Linked DNA regions of Homo sapiens. The protein of the gene in region 4 interacts with the protein of the main gene of each other region in a pairwise test. Each region holds a gene or a part of one and is shown on either strand. Other genes may lie near its edges.

Region 1 (3,567 bases), about 140 Mb from region 4:
CTGTCTTTCTTCCTGCTACTTGTAGGAACCCACAAATATCTTATAGCGTCCTAAAAAAAAATCCACTTTTACAAAAAAATTATAAATACCACGGCACATTTGGCTTTTTAAAGTTATTTTTTTCTACTCTGTGGGCAAATGCACCCCACAAGGGTCTCTGTGCTCAGGAAACAGTTGCAGTCTCGGAACACCCGTCTAACGCACGTGTGGATTATATTGGCAGTCTTTATATTCTTATGCATTTTCTTCCAGCTTGATCCTCTCCCAGAAAAGGTTTTACAGCAAAGACCCAATGCAAACGCTGTCCGTTCCATGGAGAAAGTCATGGAGATCCACAGTAAGTTGCCTGGCTGGGTGCTCACAGGGGACACGCCCCTGGGGGTGGGACTGCACCACACCCCATCCCTGTCCCCCTATACCCCCAGCTCTTCTCCATCCCACTGCCGGCTGCTTCCCCAGGCCTGCAGCAGAAGGCCTTGCTTTCAGCTGCATTTCTTGAGCTGGTAGAGACTCACATTTAACCCCGACTGGATTTCCCCCGGCCTGCTGGGATGGTTCCATCAGCCCAATTTGTAAGTCTAGAGAATCAAGGCCCAGACAGTCTCAGTGTGGAGTCACTTGCTCTAGGTCCCCAGCTAGCAGCGGGGGCCATGGCTGTGAGCCTGTACCCTGGGGACTCCGGCCTCTTCCCTGGACCAGAGAAGCCCACGTCCTGACCTCAAAGAACCCTTGGCCCTGCAGAGAGGCAGGGTGTAGGCCCTCTGAGTTCTGGCACCGACCCTCAAGCAGCAGGTCCTGGGTGCAAGGGCGTGGCACGCAGCCTATCTCAGAGGCGCCTCCCACACCCTGTCATTGTCGCAAGCCCAGCTTGTCTTGCCTTTGAGATGACCCAGATGGTTGAGACTGTCCACAGAAGCAGGGGTAGTCCAGAGCTCAGCTCCCCGTTTCCCTGTGTGAGGGAGTCCTGGCTTCAGAGCCCTGAAGCTGACCCTGGGCCAGGCCCAGCCCTCCACATACACCCCCTTGCGCCTGACGCAGTACCCCTCCACCCCCAGCCTCTGTGAGGGCCCAGGCAGAAGACCCCTCAGCCCCAGCGACAATCCCCCAGCTCACCTGCTCCCAGAGATAGGAAGGCTCAACCCAGCAGGCTGGCAGCCCCCTGCCCTGGCCACCCAGGGCAGAAAGGGGCCCGTGAGCGTGGAAAGCCAGGCCTACAGGAGCCTCCCTCTGCAGTCCTAGGTGGGCCTGCTCCTGGAGGGACTCGAGCCACTCACAATGGGGAAACATTTCCAGAGATTTTTTGGGTCTTTGTGAGTTTGTAGCCATGCAGTCTTCTGCTTCGTGTCTCTTCAAAGACGGGTGCTTTTAAAATCATAAGGGATCAATCTGGTTTGAGGCTCAGGGTCCCGCAGGACCTTCCCGGGCCTCAGTGCATCCTGCTAAGTTGTAGTCACTGAGCGACTTTCCTCACCCCACCACCCCAGGCAAGTACTGGCGCTGCCTGCAGCGCACAACCTCCACAGCGGGGCGTTCTCTGATCGAGGCTCAGACTTGCGAGAACGAAGAAGCCGAGACGGTCACCGCCATGGCCTCGCTGTCCGTGGGCGTGAAGCCCGCCGAAAAGAGGTGAGCACCTGCCCTGCCGCCCGCCTGCAGGCTCACCCAGCCCCACTGTGCCCACTGACACACTATTCAGGGTCAGAACCTTTATGGCACATGCCCTGCCCAACAGACTAGAGACAGGCCAGTGTGGCCCCCTCCTTCCAGTGCCAAAGCCCCTTAGAGACGCATGAGGAGCATTAGATCCTGAACAGATGGACCCGGGGCTGCCAGGCCAGGGCTAGGCTGGCGGGTGGGGCAGCACACAGCCTTTAACCCACGTTCTGTTCTCTCCTCTCTGTGGTGCACCTGCCCCACGCCCCCATCTCCTTCTCTTGCGGGATCCACAGACCAGATGAGGAGCCCATGGAAGAGGAGCCGCCCCTGTAGCACTCCCTCGAAGCTGCTGTTCTCTTGTCTGTCTGTCTCTGTCTTGAAGCTCAGCCAAGAAACTTTCCCGTGTCACGCCTGCGTCCCACCGTGGGGCTCTCTTGGAGCACCCAGGGACACCCAGCGTGCAACAGCCACGGGAAGCCTTTCTGCCGCCCAGGCCCACAGGTCTCGAGACGCACATGCACGCCTGGGCGTGGCAGCCTCACAGGGAACACGGGACAGACGCCGGCGACGCGCAGACACACGGACACGCGGAAGCCAAGCACACTCTGGCGGGTCCCGCAAGGGACGCCGTGGAAGAAAGGAGCCTGTGGCAACAGGCGGCCGAGCTGCCGAATTCAGTTGACACGAGGCACAGAAAACAAATATCAAAGATCTAATAATACAAAACAAACTTGATTAAAACTGGTGCTTAAAGTTTATTACCCACAACTCCACAGTCTCTGTGTAAACCACTCGACTCATCTTGTAGCTTATTTTTTTTTAAAGAGGACGTTTTCTACGGCTGTGGCCCGCCTCTGTGAACCATAGCGGTGTGCGGCGGGGGGTCTGCACCCGGGTGGGGGACAGAGGGACCTTTAAAGAAAACAAAACTGGACAGAAACAGGAATGTGAGCTGGGGGAGCTGGCTTGAGTTTCTCAAAAGCCATCGGAAGATGCGAGTTTGTGCCTTTTTTTTTATTGCTCTGGTGGATTTTTGTGGCTGGGTTTTCTGAAGTCTGAGGAACAATGCCTTAAGAAAAAACAAACAGCAGGAATCGGTGGGACAGTTTCCTGTGGCCAGCCGAGCCTGGCAGTGCTGGCACCGCGAGCTGGCCTGACGCCTCAAGCACGGGCACCAGCCGTCATCTCCGGGGCCAGGGGCTGCAGCCCGGCGGTCCCTGTTTTGCTTTATTGCTGTTTAAGAAAAATGGAGGTAGTTCCAAAAAAGTGGCAAATCCCGTTGGAGGTTTTGAAGTCCAACAAATTTTAAACGAATCCAAAGTGTTCTCACACGTCACATACGATTGAGCATCTCCATCTGGTCGTGAAGCATGTGGTAGGCACACTTGCAGTGTTACGATCGGAATGCTTTTTATTAAAAGCAAGTAGCATGAAGTATTGCTTAAATTTTAGGTATAAATAAATATATATATGTATAATATATATTCCAATGTATTCCAAGCTAAGAAACTTACTTGATTCTTATGAAATCTTGATAAAATATTTATAATGCATTTATAGAAAAAGTATATATATATATATAAAATGAATGCAGATTGCGAAGGTCCCTGCAAATGGATGGCTTGTGAATTTGCTCTCAAGGTGCTTATGGAAAGGGATCCTGATTGATTGAAATTCATGTTTTCTCAAGCTCCAGATTGGCTAGATTTCAGATCGCCAACACATTCGCCACTGGGCAACTACCCTACAAGTTTGTACTTTCATTTTAATTATTTTCTAACAGAACCGCTCCCGTCTCCAAGCCTTCATGCACATATGTACCTAATGAGTTTTTATAGCAAAGAATATAAATTTGCTGTTGATTTTTGTATGAATTTTTTCACAAAAAGATCCTGAATAAGCATTGTTTTA
Region 2 (3,567 bases), on a different chromosome or scaffold from region 4:
GTGAGACTCTGTCTCAAAAAAAAAAAAAAAAAGCTAGATGTAAAGGTAAGATGCTGGCCGGGCGCGGTGGCTCAATACCTGTAATCCCAGCACTTTGGGAGGCCAAGATGGGTGGATCACCTGAGGTTGGGAGTTCGAGACCAGACTGACCAACGTGGAGAAACCCCCATCTCTACTAAAAATACAAAATTAGCTGGGCGTGGTGGCGAGCGCCTGTAATCCCAGCTACTCAGGAGGCTGAGGCAGGAGAATTGCTTGAACCTGGGAGGTGGAGGTTGCGGTGAGCCGAGATTGCGCCATTGCACTCCAGCCTGGGCAACAAGAGTGAAACTCTGTCTCAAAAAAAAAAAAAAAAAAAGGTAAGATGCTGTGTGATTCCATTTTATGTAAAGTGTCCACAATAGGCAAATCCATAGAGACAGAGAGTAAATAATAAGTGCTTGCCTAAGGTTGGAGGGAGGAGAGAATGAAATTGACTACTAATGGGCATGGGGTTTCTTTAAGGGGTGATGGAAAATGTTCCGGAATTAGGTAATGTTGATGGTTGTACAACTTTTGAATATTCAAAAACCACTGAGTTGTACACTTTACAGGAGTGGACTTTATGCTATATAAATTACATCTCATTTTTTTTTTTTTTTTGAGACGGAGTCTCGCTCTGTCGCACAGGCTGGAGCGCAGTGGTGCAACGTTGGCTCACTGCAACCTCCGCCTCCTGGGTTCAAGTGATTCTCCTGCCTCAGCTTTCCAAGTAGGTGGGATTACAGGCGCCCGCCACTATGCCCAGCTAATTTTTTTTTGTATTTTTAGTAGAGATGGGGTTTCGCCATGTTGGTCAGGCTGGTCTTGAACTCCTGACCTTGTGATTGGCCCTCCTCCTCCTCCCAGAGTGCTGGGATTACAGGCGCATATATCTCAATTTTTAAAAAAGGCCGGGTGTAGTGGCTTATGCCTGTAATCCCAGCACTTTGGTTTAGGAGGCGGGAGGATCATTTCAGTCCAGAAGCTTGGGACCAGCCTGGGCAACATAGTAAGAAAAAAAAGCAACAGCAGCAGCCCAAATTAGGGGATTCTGGGCAAGGCACACTTACTATCATCCCCTAGAAGGTCACCAAGAAAATCATCAATGGAGCCTGGAACAGAAAAGGGACTGTCATGACTTCAGGAGGAAAGAAGAGTGGCCCTTATAAACATCAAGGCTTGAGACTCGCCAGAAGGCGTCAGACCTTTCAGATGTTGGGACTTAGGCTTAGCTCTCCTTTCATTGGCCACGAGATGTTTTACAAGTTTCTGGCAACAAGTCACAAAGCCTTGTTGAAATACCCCGAGGCAGAAATTTAAATAACTATCTCAGGCTGGGCGCAGTGGCTCACACCTGCAATCCCAGCACTTTGGGAGGCCGAGGCGGGTGGATCACCTGAAGTCAGGAGTTCGAGACCAGCCTGACCAACATGGCAAAACCCTGTCTTTACTAAAAATACAAAAAAAATGGCTGGGCGCGGTGGCTCACACCTGCAATCCCAGCACTTTGGGAGGCCAAGGCGGGTGGATCACCTGAAGTCAGGAGTTCGAGACCAGCCTGGCTAACACAGTGAAACCCTGTCTCTACTAAAAATACAAAAAATTAGCCAGGTGTGGTGGCATGTGCCTGTAGTCCCAGGTACTCGGGAGGCTGAGGCAGAAGAATCACTTGAACCCGGGTGGCAGAGTTTGTAGTGAGCCGAGATCGCACCACTGCACTCCAGCCTGGGCGACAGAGCGATACGCCGTCTCAAAAAACAACAAAAAGACCCCCCCCAAAATTAGCTGGGCCTGGTGGCGCATGCTTGTAATCCCAGCTACTGGAGAGGATGAGGCAGGAGAATTGCTTGAACCTGGGAGGCAGAGGTTGCAGTGAGCCGAGATCGCGCCACTGCATTCCAGCCTGGGTGACAGAGCAAGACGCCGTCTCAAAAACAAACAAACAAACAAAACCAAAACAAAAATTAGCCGGGCATGGTGACACATGCCTGTAATCCCAATTACTGGGGAGGCTGAGGCAGAAGAATTGCTTGAAACTGGGAGGCAGAGGTTGCAGTGACCTGAGATCACGCCATTGCACTCTACCCCGGGCAACAGAGCAAGACTCCGTCTTAAAAAAAAAAACAAAAAAACACAACTATCTGAAAGGATGATGGTGCAGATTTTCAGCAGAACCTATATTCTACCTGCCTACCATGACACACTGGCCAAAGATCAGTCTTCCAGACCCTGAACACAGCCCAGTGCAGCTCGCTGGGAAGAGTGCCCAAGATTTCTAGGCACATGGAGGCTACTTTCAGACAAGTAGGCTCCTTGTACCCTTCCATCTAAGACCCCCCAGAACTGGTCTGGATGTCCTCATCAATGGCCACTTTCTGATGGAGGCATGTGGGGGAACCTAAGTATGAATATCGAATTCGTTTCCCCACACCAGCTTTCCCACCCTGAATCCCAACCACATATTTCTGGATACAGAGCCCAAGGAGGAGGATTTTTTCCAAAACCTCATATCTTATTTACGTCTGAACTTCTCTGAGGACCAGTGAGGCAACATAAGGAAGACCAAGGCTGCCTACGGAATAATGGGAAGAACAGCAAGACTGATCAAAAACATTTTTTTTTTTTTTGAGACGGAGTCTCACTCTGTTGCCCAGGCTGGAGTGCAGTGGTGAGATCTCGGCTCACTGCAAGCTCCGCCTCCTGTGTTCACACCATTCTCCTGCCTCAGCCTCCCGAGTAGCTGGGACTACAGGCACCCGCCACCACGCCCGGCTAATTTTTTGTATTTTTAGCAGAGACGGGGTTTCATCGTGTTAGCCAGGATGGTCTCGATCTCCTGACCTCATGATCCACCCACCTCGGCCTCCCAAAGCGCTGGGATTACAGGTGTGAGCCACCGTGCCCGGCCCAAAAACATTTAAATAAACACATCTCATTGTTCCAGGACCAAAGGGGAAAAAGATATATATTTGGCTTAAGAGTAATGTTCCATCTCTCCACTCACCTTTACATCCTTTCTTGGTTTTTGGTGCCTAAAATGGGAAAAACAAATCACATCAAGAAAACCAAACAGTGAACACAGGTGGAAATTGGCAATGCAGAATGAATTGCGTTGCCTTTTGCCAAGTAACCAGAGGCAAGAGCACCAATGGCATTTAGAGATGTAAGTCCTTTATGTGTTCCTATAGTTTCTGAGAACGGACTCATTCAGAGCGTGGAAACAGCCCTGCTAACCAGCGATGGGTGCCAATGGGCGGGCAGGTCACTCCTTTCCCAGACACGACATGCAAACCCTCCCAGCCGAGATGTCATGTGACCGGAAATGTCTTCTATTCCGTGCCCCTGACTCCTCAATACCAGTGACAGACACTTAAAAACGCTTCCAGCTGGACACTCAGAGTCTCAGAAGAAACCTTGGTCGTCGAAAGTTTGGTATCAATGCCACCTCCTGTCACTCTTCTCCAGGGTCTCCATCCTGGTCCTTGCCGCCCAGCCCCCAGAGTGTTGCATGCAGTCAAGATCTTTGGGGATGCAGGATGGGAGGCA
Region 3 (3,567 bases), 3.9 Mb from region 4:
CAAAGACAATCCAGTCTCTTCAAAGGAAAAATACCCCACTCATAGCCCTTGCTAAAGGAGCATCCCTTGGGCAGCCAGGTTTTGTACCATGTGACCCTGTGTCTTATTCCCGGAGCCACACTGATTAGGCCACAGGTGGGTAATGCACACATGACTAGTAGATTGAGATGTGATCTGGCTTGAAAAGATGACATCCTTCCTTGGGAATGTGAACTAAGAAATGTCAGGACAAGTGGGTGACGAGCTGAAAGGATATCATGAAAGGACGTCCTGAAGCAGCCACAAGGATCGGGGAACCAAAGTTACCAGCAGCAGAACCCATGGGCACATGGGAGGTACAAGGTAGAGAAAAGGTCATAATAGACCACGGGACCAGAGGCAGGCAGGGGGAAGCCCAGCGCAGTCCCATCAGCGGTGAAACACTGACGCAAAGACCTAAGAATTCCTGGGGAAGCCCTCACCTCGCCTAGCACCACCCATGGGCTCCAATTTCCATGCAAACCATCCTTATTTATTCATAGATTGCCATAATACTCTAACTCTCTTGGGCTCTGTGCAAGATCTTATCACTAATTCCCTTTACTGGGATTAGCTAAGTCTCAGTTTTTCACAATCAAGAGTCTAATTAAAACAACAGACCAGGCACGGTGGCACATGTCTGTAATCCCAGCACTTTGGGAAGCCGAGGTGGAAGGATCACTTGAGGCCAGGAGTTCTCAAGACCAGCCTGGGCAACATAGCAAGACCTCTGTCTCTATAAAAATAAAAAAATATAAAAATAAAACAAGAGCATTAAATCCCACATTTCTGGGATTTATGGTGGCTGGGAGATGGTGTGGTCCTGGTGAGGAGGAGGAAAAGGCATATTTGCGGTGCACTGACCATTCTCCAACAGTCAAGGGGATATGGTCACTGCTTCTTGTGACTCATTCATTCATCCTTCTATTCAACCAGCATTTATTCAGCACCAACTACTTACATCAAGCACAGAAAAACTGTCAGACACTGTCTTTGTCCTCCAGAAGCTATAGCTTAGCACAGAGAACAAACAAGTAAATGAGATAATATTTCACTCCAGGATGCATTAAGAGCAGCAAAGCGATATGCACAGCAATCCATGAGAGCACCTCAGAGGCTCACCTAACCCAGCAGGGAGGGATGGAAGGAGGAACTCTGCAGCTTTCTTGACAGGAGTGGGATCTAAGCTAAGTTTTCATTTGTGGGAGGAGCTAGAACATTCTAAATCTTGAGAAAAAAACCTCAAGTTTTTCAAAAAGAAGGAGGCAGGTCTTTACATGGAAAGGATTAACAACAAAAATTAGCTTAGAATGGTAGAAGTCTAGGCTGTGAGCAGTGCTGTGGGGAAGATGAGGGAAAAGAGGTAGGCAGAGGCCAGTTTCATCGAGGAGAGCTTTGCATGGCCCTTTCTCCACAGGCATGGAGATTACTGAAGGATTTGGGTGTGGACATGTCATCACATCCGTGCTTTAAAAAATCACTGTGACTTATAGCAAGGGCCTTGAAACATACTGTTTGACCCAGCAATTCTCTCCTAGGAATTTATACTAGGAAATAAGTAATGATATATGATATATACACAGCTTTTTATGACTCATCATTAACACTAACCCTTATTGACAGCTATGTTCCAGGGCACTTCCTAAGCACTTTATATGTATTATCTCATTTAATCTTTTCAATAAGGCAGCAAAAATTTGAAATACCTTAAACATCTGGAGACTTGGTTAAATAATTTATGGCCCAGTCCATACATATAATGGAACACTATTAAACATCATCTTGGCCTGGCACGGTGGCTCACGCCTGTAATCCCAGCACTTTGGGAGGCCAAGACATGCGGATCATGAGGTCAAGAGATGGAGACCATCCTGGCCAAAATGGTGAAACCCAGTCTCTACTAACAATACAAAAAAATTAGCTGGGCGTGGTGGCGTGTGCCTTTAGTCCCAGCTACTTGGGAGGCTGAGGCAGGAGAATTGGTTGACCCTGGGAGGCGGAGGTTGCAGTGAGCCAAGATCGTGCCACTGCACTCCAGCCTGGCGACAGAGCAAGACTCCATCTCAAACAAACCAAACCAAAACAAAAAAACCCATCATCTTAATAACAACTAGCATTATTGAGTATTTTCTATTTGCCAGGTACTGTGCTAAGTGCTTTTTATAAGGCTAATTTAACTCCATCCTCATAAATCAATAAGGTAGGCACTATTTTACAGATTAGGAAATTAAGGCTTTGTAAGAATCTGAGGTAGAACTTGAAACCATGTCTGCCTGGGAGGTTTTAACTTTCATGCTACCATGATTTATTTTCATGAAAAGATAGCCACATCAATTACAGACCAATAGACTAGAACAGAAAATCCCAAAACATATCCAAACATTAGGGAAGCCTGATGTATGACTGAGGTGGCATTACAAGTCACTGGGGAGAAGATCACTAGTGATAAACTGCAAACAACTTCAATGTCCATTAATCAGATAAAGGATTTGTGAATATATATACATTATCTCATATATGAATATTATATATGAATATGTGTATTATACATTATATATGAATATTATACATTATCTCATGTTAACAGAGATAAATTACAAAAACATAATTACTGGGCAAAAAATAAGTTATAGAATGACTTACTGTATAATATTTACATAAAATTTAAAAACAGGTAAATAATACCTACAAAAATCTATTAACACATGGGACAATAAGCAGCAAATGTGTACATATCTGAGAAGAAAGGGAAATAAGACTGGGGAAGGATACCCAGGATACTTCAGCTTTATCTGTAATGCTTTGTTTCTTACAAAAAAAAAAAAAATCAACAACTGAAAAAAAACCACAAAGAACGGCCAGGTGCAGTGGCTCACACCTGTAATCCCAGCACTTTGGGAGACCGAGGCGTGTGGATCACTTGAGGTTAGGAGTTCAAGACCAGCTTGGCCAACATGGTGAAATCCCGTCTCTACTAAAAATACAAAAATTAGCCAGGCATGATGGCACGTGGCTGTAGTGCCAGCTACCCTGGAGGCTGAGGCAGGAGAATTGCTTGAACCCAGAAGGCAGAGGTTGCAGTGAGCTGAGCTCACGCCACTGCACTCCAGCCTGGGTGACAGAGTGAGACTCCATCTAAAAAAAAAAAAAAAAACCACAAAGAAATTCAAAACACTTGAAGAATGCACACTTTTAAAATTACATATTTGTACATGCACATTATGTATAGAAAAAGGAAAAACACATAATAAAATGTAAATGAAATTTGAGTGGTGAGTTATAAGTTATTTTTATTTTCTTACCATTCTTCATATATTTTTTTCAACAAGAGTAAGTCCTTATTTTGGTGTACAGAAAAAAATAACAGGAAGGAAAGAAGGGTGGTGTGCAGAAAAGTCACAGCAGACCTGAGACTGCTATTCCTAGAAAGTTCTGCTTGCATGCTGGCCCTTCGCTGGCAGCTGGAAACTTCGATTTTGAGAGGGTTCCCCAGTTCCCTAAGAGATAACGGTGGTCTACTATGCCTAAACTATTTGTGCAAACAATGTC
Region 4 (3,567 bases):
TTTCTTTAAGGTTTCTCAAGGTTTTTATTCTCATTTTTTGATTATTCAAATATTTATCCTTCAGCAAGGAAGTACTAAGCTTTAATACAAATATAGCCCTGTTCTCTCTTTTCTTTAATATTTAACCCTTTGTGTCTGAGAATTCCATTTAAAAATTATGTGGCCTATTTTGTTATTTTTTAAAAAAAAGAAAAGGCTAGTTCCAGTGTCTGAGCTCTTCTATAAAATAAAATGAGGGCTGTTCCTCACAAGAAATTCATATTTTTTTTTCTTGGAGAAAATGATTCTAGGAACAAGTGTACCTGGTTTTCTTGTTTAGCTTTAGCAAACTGTTCCTGGAGATTGTCATTGTCATGAGCCAAGATATCTCTTTCCCTGGCGATCTGGGCCAGCTCATCATTTGTCTCATCCAATTGCCGACGCATTCTGGAAACGTCTTGTTCACACACAATTAGGGCCTCAGTACACTGTCTATTCCACAAATCAAAGAGTACATAAGAAGAGACATTTTACTGAAACAGAGCAACAAATTCTCACAAGACAGAAGATGGACAGTTAGTATGAAAACATTTGAAGAGATTTTAAACACGTTTGAATTTATAGGAATAAATACTGCAAAGACAGTGCATTAGAGTTTCTCAATGTTGCCATCATTTCGCTATGAAAAGGATACAAAGTATACATAATAGTCAATGATTTGCCAAATATTTCAAAACTTCTTACATCAAGTATTAGGAAGGCTTTCATCCTACTTCTGTTATGGCTTAGTCTCCTTTACAGATTCCTCTTCCTCTGCCCACTTAAAAATTAATGCTTTTCAGGGCTCAAGCCCTAGCCTCCCAATTATTCTCACTCTAACCCTTCTCTCAGACAAACTCTATTCATATCCATGGTTCCCAACCCCATCTAGATCCAATGACTCCAAAATAATTATCTCCAGTTTTAGACCCTCTGTTATACTCCAGACTTATATTTAACTGCTTACTAGACATGTCTACAATAAGGTCCCAAAGGTTCTTCAAATTCAGAGGTAAAATCATTTTTTCTCCTCATACTTTCTTCATGTTCAGTATTTGTCCCTGGCCAGAAACTTGGCATTTTCCTGGTGTCTCTCCCTCATACAAAAGCATTTCACTCCTTCTGTCCCACAACTCCTAAACCCCAATTTATCACCACCTCTTCTGCTTAGGTATCTTTCTAACACAAAATTCTCCTCAGAATTCTTTAATGATTTCTTATTGCCCAAAGGATATAACCAATACTCATTTGTCTGTTACACAAGCCTCTGCCTGCCTATTTAGTCTCCTCCCTTCACTTCTCCCCTTACACTCTAGGTTTCAACAACACTCACCCACTTGTAGGTCAAGAGGCTTGTCAACATGATCTGTGGTTCTTTGCTATTCTTTCTACTTTAAATGCCCTTCCCTTCCCCTTATTTTACTTGGCAAACACCATCCCCTCTTTTAGTTCCTTAGACAGACTTAGGCCTCCTTTGATGAGAGAGTTAGCACCTTACACGTATCATTAAGCCCCTTGTTTCTTACTATCTTTGTACCTAACATGGTACTTGGCCCCCCAGTAAGAGCTCATATATTTGTTGCACGACTGATTTACCTTGATGCCTGTTCCATCTCAGCAATGATATTCTTCATGCCTGAAATGGTCTTTTCCTTGAAAAATAATATAAGTATTAAATAAAAAAATCTTAAGCTGTTATTTCTGTTAAAATTGAATGAACAAAAAGAAAATTTCCCTTTCCCTTTAGGTTTCCATTTGGTTTTAAAAACATGTATGTCCTATTCTTTTCCACACTTTAAAGCCTAGTATATCAATGTGAATATTTGCACTGGGTAAAAATAGATTATGTTCATTAAAGTAAAGGCTATACTTAGGTGTAATTATGAGATCAGTATATCAAATTCTTTGTCAAAAGATATTTTATGCAGTCACCCAGCAATACAAGAACCCTATAACCACCTGTTTTTGGAGGCAAACCAATGGTTTGGCATTGGAGTATTGGCATTTTATACTGGGATTTAGAACTGGTTCTCTTGCTCACATTCTTTATGTTATAAAACCCAGAGAAGCCAATCATGTATACCTAAATTTAGTTTTTAAGAATAATTTTGATTAAGTGTATTATTTATATTAGCCAGCAACAAAATCTTCAAAAAGCTGTTCCAATCCAATTACTTATAGAAGTATACTACTGATATTTAGGTGAGAGCTAATAAGAAGGTAAGCATTAGGCCTCGAGCAAAGGTAAGAGAAATAAACTATATTTTCCTTTTTCAAAGGCGTGATGAGGGAGTAGAAGTAGTGGAGTCAGTCAAGGCAGAAATGGGTTTGAATATCTTAATGCCTTTAATACCATTCCCACACCTCTTTTTAAAACTTCCATTGACCCTGAACTAGTCCAACTATAAACAGATACTTAGAGCTAACATTAGCCCTAAAAAAGTAAGAAAGTTATTTCACTAAGTAATAACTAGATTTCACCTTGCCATTTGAATTTTCAAATTTTAAGTAACTAAGTAAAAAGATTTTTAAAAACCCAAACCTATATTTTCCAACCAATTCTGTTCCTGTTTCTTTTCTTTTTTTTTTTTTTTTTTTTTTTTTTTTTGAGATGGAGTTTTGCTCTTGATGCCCCGGCTGGAGTGCGAGGGCGCGATCTCGGCTCACTGCAACCTCCGCCTCCCAGGTTCAAGCGATTCTCCTGCCTCAGCCTCCCAAGTAGCTGGGACTACAGGCATGCGCCACCATGCCCAGCTAATTTTTTGTATACTTAGTAGAGACGGGGTTTCACTATGTTGGCCAGGCTGGTCTCAAACTCCTGACTTCAAGTGATCCACCCACCTCGGCCTCCCAAAGTGCTGGGATTACAGGCGTAAGCCACTGCGCCCGGCCGTTCCTATTTCTTTAGCGTTAGTTTTACACATATTTGCGTGTGTGTGTGTGTGTGTGTGTGTGCTATCTTCCTTTATTCATGTGCTCTTCTCCAGGGTATTTTTAGCTACAGTTTCCCATTCTGCTTTCTCATGGAATGGTACAGATTCCACATCTGGCAGTAATAGATACTGGTGTGTTGTTAAAATATGCATTAAAAAAAAAGTTAAACCCCTTCAAGAAGGACAAGCCAACGAAGGAAAAACTAAAAGACAAAATACTCCATAAAATGGAATGTTTACACATTTTTGAAATATAATTTAATACATTTCTAAACAAATTCTGAAAAGCTAGTTGAACTAGTGCTTTTGAAAGTCTTTACTTGAGGCCGAATGCGGTGGCTTATGCCTGTAATCCCAGCACTTTGAGAGGGTGAGGCAGGCGGAACACGAGGTCAGGAGTTTGAGACCAGCCTGACCAACATGGTGAAACCCCATCTCTACTGAAAATACAAAAATTAGCCGGGTGCAGTGGTGGGCGCCTATAATCCCAGCTACTCAGGAGACTGAGGCAGGGAATCACTTGAACTCGGGTGGCGAGGGTTGCAGTGGGCTGAGATTGTGTCACTGCACTCCAACCTGGGTGACAGAGACTCCGTCTCAAAAAAAAAAAAAAGTC

The links. Proteins that work in one complex are often made in the same cells at the same time.
Region 1: the proteins of TSGA10 (region 4) and HDAC4 interact in binary tests that used the Homo sapiens proteins (3 or more experiments, as listed by UniProt).
Region 2: the proteins of TSGA10 (region 4) and FBF1 interact in binary tests that used the Homo sapiens proteins (3 or more experiments, as listed by UniProt).
Region 3: the proteins of TSGA10 (region 4) and ZNF2 interact in binary tests that used the Homo sapiens proteins (3 or more experiments, as listed by UniProt).

The regions. Positions count from the first base shown.
Region 1 is NC_000002.12:239,051,519-239,055,085, reverse strand, and holds part of HDAC4 (histone deacetylase 4), read left to right. Parts: intron 1-252; coding exon 253-337; intron 338-1,484; coding exon 1,485-1,626; intron 1,627-1,949; coding exon 1,950-1,989; 3' UTR 1,990-3,567. UniProt on the Homo sapiens protein: Responsible for the deacetylation of lysine residues on the N-terminal part of the core histones (H2A, H2B, H3 and H4).
Region 2 is NC_000017.11:75,934,541-75,938,107, forward strand, and holds part of FBF1 (fas-binding factor 1), read right to left. Parts: intron 3,054-3,567; coding exon 3,026-3,053; intron 1,134-3,025; coding exon 1,092-1,133; intron 1-1,091. UniProt on the Homo sapiens protein: Keratin-binding protein required for epithelial cell polarization. Involved in apical junction complex (AJC) assembly via its interaction with PARD3. Required for ciliogenesis.
Region 3 is NC_000002.12:95,172,244-95,175,810, reverse strand, and holds part of ZNF2 (zinc finger protein 2), read right to left. Parts: intron 1-3,567. UniProt on the Homo sapiens protein: May be involved in transcriptional regulation.
Region 4 is NC_000002.12:99,071,404-99,074,970, forward strand, and holds part of TSGA10 (testis-specific gene 10 protein), read right to left. Parts: intron 1,671-3,567; coding exon 1,615-1,670; intron 472-1,614; coding exon 303-471; intron 1-302. UniProt on the Homo sapiens protein: Plays a role in spermatogenesis. When overexpressed, prevents nuclear localization of HIF1A.